2 linked regions of the Homo sapiens genome follow. The protein of the gene in region 1 purifies or fractionates together with the protein of each later gene. This does not show direct contact. Each region holds a gene or a part of one and is shown on either strand. Other genes may lie near its edges.

Region 1 (5,301 bases):
AGACAACTGATTTCAGTTGTCTTAATGTTAGCAAACTATGGGATGTTTCCTAACACTGACTCACCATTACTGACTACAAAATGTTTTATAAGTGGAGGTGAAAGTGAGATAGACTCAAATGCCAGGTTTAGATGTCACAGTTTGTTTATAACTTTTTTTTCATTTTTTTAAATAATAAAAAAAAGTGTGTATCAGATGTGGGATTTGAAGTTTATAACTTTTTGATATGTCCCTTTCTCACTATACAAAATACAGAGATGTTCTTACTTGACTCCAAATTTTAGGGACTGGAAAAATTGAAATTAGACTTATTTCGCATAGAAAATATAAGGATTGATGAGAACTCAGTATTTTTCCAGTGTGAACCTACATTAAATGTTACTACCATTATATTAACTACTTTCTTTTCTGTAACATTGTGCTAAGCATTGTTCTCAGGAAACCTCTTGGATTTTGACCAGTATGGGTTAAAAAGCTGAGATAGGAAATGATTTATTAAGACAGACACTATAGGAGGCACAAAAAGAACCTAAAGTTTCGTAAAAATTAAACCCAGCAGTTACCTAGAGAATGAAGTTTATCACTAATAGGAGTAAGTGTACTTTTAGCGTTGGTTAATGAAGTATACATAAGTATGTAGAAAATGGTATTTTCTTGTCACATCTACTCTCATAATCTCACCTACATTTTAATTACTTGATTACAATTCCCAGGAACTTTGATCTCTAACTAATGATAAAAAGTTTTGAATTGGTGCAAGGCCTAAACACAGTTAAACAGAACACTTACAGTTGGATAGTTGCGACTGAAGTTCATGCCTTCTTTCAATTTCAAAGAAATTGAAAACAATTTCTTTCACGCTAGCCTCTTAGAAAAACCTAAGCATTTGGTTGCCAAAAGTCATGCACTTACGGTCCTAGCAAAGAATATATTATAAAAAAGGCATCTAACAAGGTAATGTTTTCTCCAGCAGCAGCGACAGCTGTGATAGGAATGATTCAAGCTGGTTCTCCAACTGAGTAAATCTCTGGCCTGGGTAGTCCAAAAGGATGGAAATCTGGATTAGGTGGTCTTTGAACCTTCTTCTTAAGGATTCCTTAGAAGGTTCTGTAATTACCAACAGTCATGGGATAGTTCACGTGAAGATGATGATGTGGCCCAGGTTGCTGCTCATGTCCCTTCCCACTTTACTGCCACATCAACCCATTTCCCACTCATGGCCTGCTCCTTCTCCCCTGTGCTGCTCTGTTCTTCCTAGAATGCAGTCCTTTTTGAAGCCTGCTCCCCTCATTGTCAAAGGTTAATTCAATTTTCATTTTCTCTTCTATACTCTATTGTACCTCTAATATGATCTAACTTGTTTTTATACCCATGTCGCAGGGTCTGTCTTAGTACTCTGCTTACTGTGACTATACAATAATTTTTAAAAATAAAATTGATACTCTTCGAACTGAAACAGAGAAGACATCCATCACCAAGAATACTTTTTTTTTTTCTGAGAAGGAGTCTTGCTCTGTCACCCAGGCTGGAGTACAATGGCATGATCTTGGCTCACTGCAGCCTCCGCCTCCCAGGTTCAAGTGATTCTCCTGCCTTAGCCTCCTGAGCAGCTGGGATTACAGGCACGCGCCACCACACTTGGCTAATTTTTTTTTTTTTTTTTTTTTTGAGGTGGAGTCTCATTCTGTCACCGAGCTGGAGTGAAGTGGGATAATCTTGGTTCACTGCAGCCTTGGCCTCCTGAGTAGCTGGGATTACAGGCATGCGCCCAGCTGATTTTTTTTTTTTTTTTTTTTTTTGTATTTTGAGTAGATACGAGGTTTTGCCATGTTGGCCAGGCTGGTCTCGAACTCCTGACCTCAAGTGATCCTCCGGCCTTGGCCTCTCATAGTGCTGGGATTACAGGCATGAGCCACCACTCCCGGCCACCAAGAATACATTTTGAAAAGAAGGTTCACATGACTAAAGGTGATAGATATCAGATGAGAAGTCATGGAATGTTAGAGTCGGAGGGAAACTGTGTGATCATTTCGTCTGATCTTTTTATTTTATATTTTGACTTGGAGAGTGACTGGCTGGGGCCACACAGCTAGCTGGTCAGCGTGGGGCCGGGGCCTGAGGTTTCTGGAGCTCTGATCATGACATAGGCATCTCCCTCATTGCCCAACAAAAGTTGTTAAAGATAGAGCAAATTTAAGTTTGATTTTAAGACACAAGGGACTCTTCTGTGGTAGTTCTTAGAATGTCTTTTTCTACTTTTTTTGTTTAAGGAATGTAGTTGAGATTTTGTTAAGCCGTTATGGCTGGATTCTGCTGGTGTCTTCAGGGACAGGGTATTATCATTTGCATCGTTTAATGTTTTGTTATTCAGGCAGGCTCAATAAAGCACTTAGGAGATTAGAGTTCTGCAGCTGGAATAAATAACAAGGCAAGATGCCCATTCCTACACATGATGCGTTGGACTCCACTGATGCTACTGCAGTGAAAGGCAATCAGTAAACAACTGTGGACAGGATCGAATGGGCTGTTGGAGATTTAGGGGCCTGTCTTGTTCAAGACCAAACAGATACAGAGAGAATCAGGGACAAGGTTTGAAACAACAAAAGGGTGAGCAATAAAACAGCAGTTTCGGGAATATTACTGGTATAAGGAATATATTTCTTCCTTGAAAGAAATACATTGGAATGCATCAAGAATCTCTTGAATATATTTTATCCTTGAATGCACATTAAATTTGTGAATTTAAGAATTGAGTGAGTGCACTCTCTTTTTTATCTTTTATCTTGCAAACAATTTTGGACCTGCTGTAATTTTGGCACACTTAATCCCTCTGCCTTCCAGATGAGCAATATCAGGTGTATAGCTAGTGTTTTCTGGACCCAGTATCAACAGGTGAGGGGGAGCATGTGAGGAGGATGAGCAAGAGTATTTGCCATGAGCACGAGTGTGTCTCACATGGTGGGGTTGGACGCTTTGTCAGGGAGATGGTGTCTGTTCTCTCACAGTAACCCATGCTTCTTTGTAGCGCTTAGCCCGATTCCAGTGAAATATCTGGTGGTGTGATTATTTATTCCATGTCCTTTCTAGCTTTGTGTGCTCCTAAGGACACAGCTTGCTCTGTCCTGTTCACCGCTATTCCTAGCTCCTTTCACAGTGTCTCACACATGCAAGGTGTTTAACAAATATTTGTTGACTGAGTAAATGGTTGCAGGTAGGAAGGAATGTTTGTCTACTGAACTTAAAGATATACACAGGGCCAGGCGTGGTGGCTCACGCCTGTAATCCCAGCACTTTGGGAGGCCGAGGCAGACAGATCACCTGACATCAGGAGTTCGAGACCAGCCTTGCCAACATGACAAAACCCCATCTCTACTAAAAGATACAAAAATTAGCTGGGCATGGTGGCAGATGGCTGTAATCCCAGCTCCTTGGGAGGCTGAGGCAGGAAGAATTGCTTAAACCCGAGAGGCAGAGGTTGCAGTGAGCCGAGATTGCACCACTGCGCTCCAGCTTGGGCAACAGAGCGAGACTCCATCTCAAAAAAAAAATAATAATAATAAAATAAAAGAAAAGATATACACAGGTGGGAGCATAGAGGTAAAGTGCACAGGCCCTCAGCAGAATTCTTGTATACAGCAACTGACTCTTCCATTGTATTTTATTATCTATTCATTTATTTTGAGACAGGGTCTCTCTGGGTTGTACAGCCTAGAGTGCAGTGGCACCATCACAGCTCACTGCATCCTTGAACTCCGGGCTCAAGTGATCCTCTCACCTTAGCCTCCCAAGTAGCTGGGACTACAGGAGTGCACCACCACACCCAAGGTTTTTTTTTGTTGTTGTTTTTTTTTTTTTTTGTACAGACAGGGTTTCACCATGTTGCCCAGGCTGATATCGAACTCCTGGACTCAAGCAGTCTGCCCGCCACAGCCTCCCAAAGTGCTAAGATTACAGGCGTGAGCCACCGTGCCCAGCTGTCATCCCATTTTTAACTATGTGTTTTTGGCAACTCATTTCACCTCTCTGTATCTTCATTTTCTCATGTATAAAATTGGATTGTAATTTCAGTCTCATGGAATTGTGAGGATTAAATGAGTGAATCCAGGTAAAGCTCTTAGTACAGGGCTGGCAATAATAAATGCTCAATAAATACTGACTCCTATTATAAATACTGACTCCTATTATTTCTTAATTACCCATCTTTTAGCTAATGAGAGATATGTTTTAAACTGTTGATTCTCTTTCCATGCAGCTTTTGGATTGCTTTGGGATTCCTGTGTTGATGGCTCTGTCATGGTTTATTCTTCATGCAAGATACAGAGTGATCCACTTCATCGCCGTGGCTGTCTGTCTGTTGGGTGTAGGAACCATGGTTGGTGCAGACATACTAGCAGGGAGGGAAGACAATTCAGGTGAGACGGTGTCACATGTTTGTGCTTCAATCACAGCAAATTTGTTTATGTTTTCACTTTTATATCAACAAAGAAACTTGTTTACTGGAGTATTTCTTTTTAAGTCACTGTGTAGGTGAGAACACTTTGCCACACTTTGTGTTGAATTCAGTTGATAGTATAAAATCTAATTGAGGTCTATGAATTCATCCAATCTTCAAGTGAGTTAAACGTCTCCTTGGATTGAGAGAGAAAATTACAGTTGATACTATAAAATCTAATTAAGGTCCATGAATTCACCCAGTCTACAAGTGAGTTAAGTGTCTCTTTGGATTGAGAGAGAAAATTATAGTTGATAGTATAAAATCTAATTAAGGTCTGTGAATTCACCCAGTCTACAAGTGAGTTAAGTGTCTCTTTGGATTGAGAGGGAAAATTACTTTGAAAGCAGGTTCCCATTTTTCAAATTGACCTACCCCTTCAATGAACTCCATTAATTTGTCATGTCATGGAATCATTTTCTGAGGCCTTACATTATGATATATATCATCAGTTTCTAGCCTGTTAGACTTCTGAGGAGTTAAATTATGAAAAATTACAGCAGAATTGCACCAGAAAGTGAGAAGAGTAAGAGATTTTAAACTTCTAGTAACCAGGTTGGGTGCGGTGGCTCACACCTGTAATCCCAACATTTTGGAAGGCCAAGGTGGGTGGATCACCTGAGGTCAGGAGTTCGAGACCAGCCTGGCCAACATGGTGAAACCTCGGTCTCTACCAAAAATACAAAAATTAGGCCAGGCACAGTCGCTCGCACCTGTAATCCCAGTACTTTGGGAGGCCAAGGTGAGCGGATCACTTGAGGTCAGGAGTTCAAGACCAGTACAAATGCAAAAATTAGCCAGGCATGATG
Region 2 (3,500 bases), on another chromosome or scaffold:
GGTAGCACGTGCCTGTAATCCCAGCTACTTGGGAGGCTGAGGCAGGAGAACTGCTTGAACCCAGGAGGCAGAGGTTGCAGTGAGCCAAGACTGTGCCACTACACTCCAGCCTGGGTGACAGAGTGAGACTCTGTCTCAAAAATAAAAAATAAAAATAAATATTTGCTTAAATATTTTTGGTTCTAGGATTTGCTTTCCCCTACTGAAAGCTAACATGTTCTCCTGTTAGTAATGTTTCATAGATGTTGTTAGAAAACACAGTATTCTTGGGTCAGAGAAAGTCCTTGCTATGCTTAGTAATTTTATTTTCTTACAAAATTATAGGGGTAAATTTTAAAATTTTCAATTAATACCTATTTTATAGAGGAAAAACCAGACTTAAGTGATTAAGTAACTTGTATAAGGTTTGCTTAGCTAGTAAATGGCAGAACCAGGATTGGAAGTTAGTTTCTTTGAGTCCATCCTGTTACTCTCTATATACTATATTAACTCTTTGAATCCCTCTTTGTTGGGTTGAGAGATCTGTATATATCTTTAGAGTGAGATTTTAGGCCAGGTGCAGTGGCTCACACCTGTAATCCCAGCACTTTAGGAGGCTGAGATGGGTGGATCACTTGAGGTCAGGAGTTCGAGACCAGCCCGGCCAACATGGCGAAACCCCATCTCTACAAAAAGTACAAAAATTAGCCAGACGTGATGGTGCGTGCCTGCATGCCTGTGGTCTTCAGCTACCTGGGGGGCTGAGGCGGGAGAATCACTTGAGCCCAGGAAGTTGAGGCTATAGTGTTTTGTATTTGTGCCACTGCACTCCTGCCTGGGTGACAAAGTGAAACCCTTTTTTATTTAAAAAAAAAAAAAGACTTAAATTTTGTGTTCTTTATTCTGTATTCTTACTAATTTCTAGGTTGTTTTATATATCAACTTTTTTTTGTCTTTTTGAGACAGGGTCTTGCTGTCTCACCAAGCCTGGATTGCAGTGATGGTATCACAGCTCACTGCAGTCTCGACCTCCCAAGGTCAAGCCACCCTCCCACCTCAACCTCCCAGGAGGACCACAGGCATACATCACCAAGCCTGGCTAATTTTAAATTTATTTTTTGTGGCCGGGTGCGGTGGCTCACGCCTGTAATCCCAGCACTTTGGGAGGCCGATGGGGGTGGATCATTTGAGGTCAGGAGTTCAAGACCAGCCTGGCCAACATGGTGAAACCCCGTCTCTACTAAAAATACAAAAATTAGCTGGGCATGGTGGTGTTTGCCTGCAGTCCCAGCTACTTGGGAGGCTGAGACAGGAGAATCGCTTGAATCCGGGAGGCGGAGGTTGCAGTGAGCTGATATTGTGCCACAGCACTCCAGCCTGGGTAAGAGAGCAAGAATCAGTCTCAAAAAAAAAAAAAAATTTTTTTTTTCCTAGAGATGTGGTCTCCCTATGTTACACAGGCTAGTCTCAAAACTCTTGGGCTCATGTGATCCTCCAACCTCAGCCTCCCAAAGTGCTGGGATTACAGGTGTAAGCCTGGCTAGTATATCAATTTCTGATGGAAATGTTAAAATCTATGATTGCAGATTTTGTCCATTTGTCTATATAATTCTGACTTACATTTAAATATTTCAAAGCCATATTTGAAAGCTATCTATAGCTATATATAAATATATAATTATAAAAATAATTCTATTGCAAACATATGCAAAGTTAGATATAATTTACGTATTTCAAAGGTATATACAAGTTCAGGAATTTTAATATTCTTGGTGAATTGCTTTCCTTCTTTATCATCCTATTTACTTATTTTGCCTTAAGTAATTTGTATGTATTAATATTGCTAATGAGCTATTTTGGGAGTTGGTGTTTGTCTGATATATCTTTCCCATAACTTTATTTTCAGTGTTCCTATTTGGTTTTGTTGTAGGTATGTTTCTTAAGCATACAGCTATAGTTTTGGGGTTTTATAAAAAATTTAGTCCTATAGTGTCTGGGTTTTGTTTTGTTTTTGAGATGAGCTCTTGCTCTGTTGCCCAGGATGGTCTCTGCATTTGTCTGTTCTCATGCTGCTAATAAAGACATAGCCGAGACTGGGCAATTTATAAAGGAAAGAGGTTTAATTGACTCACAGTTCCACATGGTTGTGGAGACCTCACAATCATGGTGGAAGATGAAGGAAAAGCAAAGGGATGTCTTACATGGTGGCGGCAGGCAAGAAAGAATGAGAGCCCAAGCGAAAGGGGAAACTCCTTATAAAACTATCACATCTCGTGAGACTTATTCACTACCATGAGAACAGTATGGCAGGAAACCACCCCCATGATTCAGTTATCTCTCACCCTGTCCTTTCCACAACACATGAGAATTATGGGAGCTACAGTTCAAGATGAGATTTGGGTGGGGACACAGCTAAACCATGTCAGTCTCCAACTCCTGGGCCCAAGCAATCCTTGCACCTTGGCCTCCCAAGTCACTGGGACTACAGGTGCATGCCACCATGCCTAGCAAGTCTCTGTCTTAAAAACTCTTGTGCATGTGTAACAAATTTTAATTCACAAAGGTTACATTTCAAGAGTTACTTTTTACTGTAGTTGAGATAAGGGGAGTCTGGACAACATTGTGACACTTGTCTCTACAAAAAAAAGTTATAAAAAATTAGCCAGGCCTGGTGGTTCATGCCTGCAGTCATTCCCAGCTACTTGGGAGGCTGTGGGAAGATTGTTTGAACCCAGGAGTTCAAGGCTGCAGTAAGCCATGTTCATGCCACTGCACTCCAGCCTGGGTGACAGAGCAAGACTCTCAGAAAGAATAATCTGGAGATATTGTTGAGAACTTGGGTTTTGTTTTTTATTTTGAGTGTTATACAAGTTCAAAGTCTAGTATAAATTTCTCAGAGCCAACATGGTGCTGATGGAGTGAGCTATTTGTGCATTTTAAACTGAAACTCTTGTCATTAGTGTTAGCCCTTTATCAGCTTTGTATCTCTAAAACACCTGAAAGACTGTCTTAGAAAACCATCATAGCTTGTTGATTATGAGTACATCCCTTGGTTTGGAATCATAAGGACTAAGACTTAAATTTAAAGCATGAGAAATTAAGATGTTTTTACACTAAGGAGAAGTTGTAAAAAATACTGATTTGGAATCTCTGTAAGTGACTTCTGTTTTTTTGTAGAGTCACCTAGGCTGTGTGGAATACAATGTGGTTAGAATCTTTTAAACTAAAATAACTCAGTATATTGTTTATTAAACTTTCTAGGGAAATGGGCAGATTACTCTGAATATTCCTTTTCCTTCTGCTTTTCTTTTTATCTTAAAAAGGAGTAAATTGCATGGATGACTTGAAGTGACGAGTTGGTATTTATTATTTGAATCAACAGTAAAAATTTTTTGGACATAGTGTGAAAATCCTTATTTAAGTAATTAGGGCAGAATTCTTGTCAATTAAAAAAAAATCTCAATGGCAAAGTAGAGCTGTAAAGAAGGAGTTAGGAATAATAACTACATTCAAGATGAAAG

Evidence for each region. Proteins that work in one complex are often made in the same cells at the same time.
Region 2: the proteins of SLC35F2 (region 1) and REEP5 purify together in Homo sapiens (affinity purification with mass spectrometry; 2 studies listed by BioGRID and IntAct, with this or other methods). This does not show direct contact.

What each region holds. Positions count from the first base shown.
Region 1 is NC_000011.10:107,805,828-107,811,128, reverse strand, and holds part of SLC35F2 (solute carrier family 35 member F2), read left to right. Parts: intron 1-4,252; coding exon 4,253-4,412; intron 4,413-5,301.
Region 2 is NC_000005.10:112,887,728-112,891,227, reverse strand, and holds part of REEP5 (receptor expression-enhancing protein 5), read left to right. Parts: intron 1-3,500. UniProt on the Homo sapiens protein: Plays an essential role in heart function and development by regulating the organization and function of the sarcoplasmic reticulum in cardiomyocytes.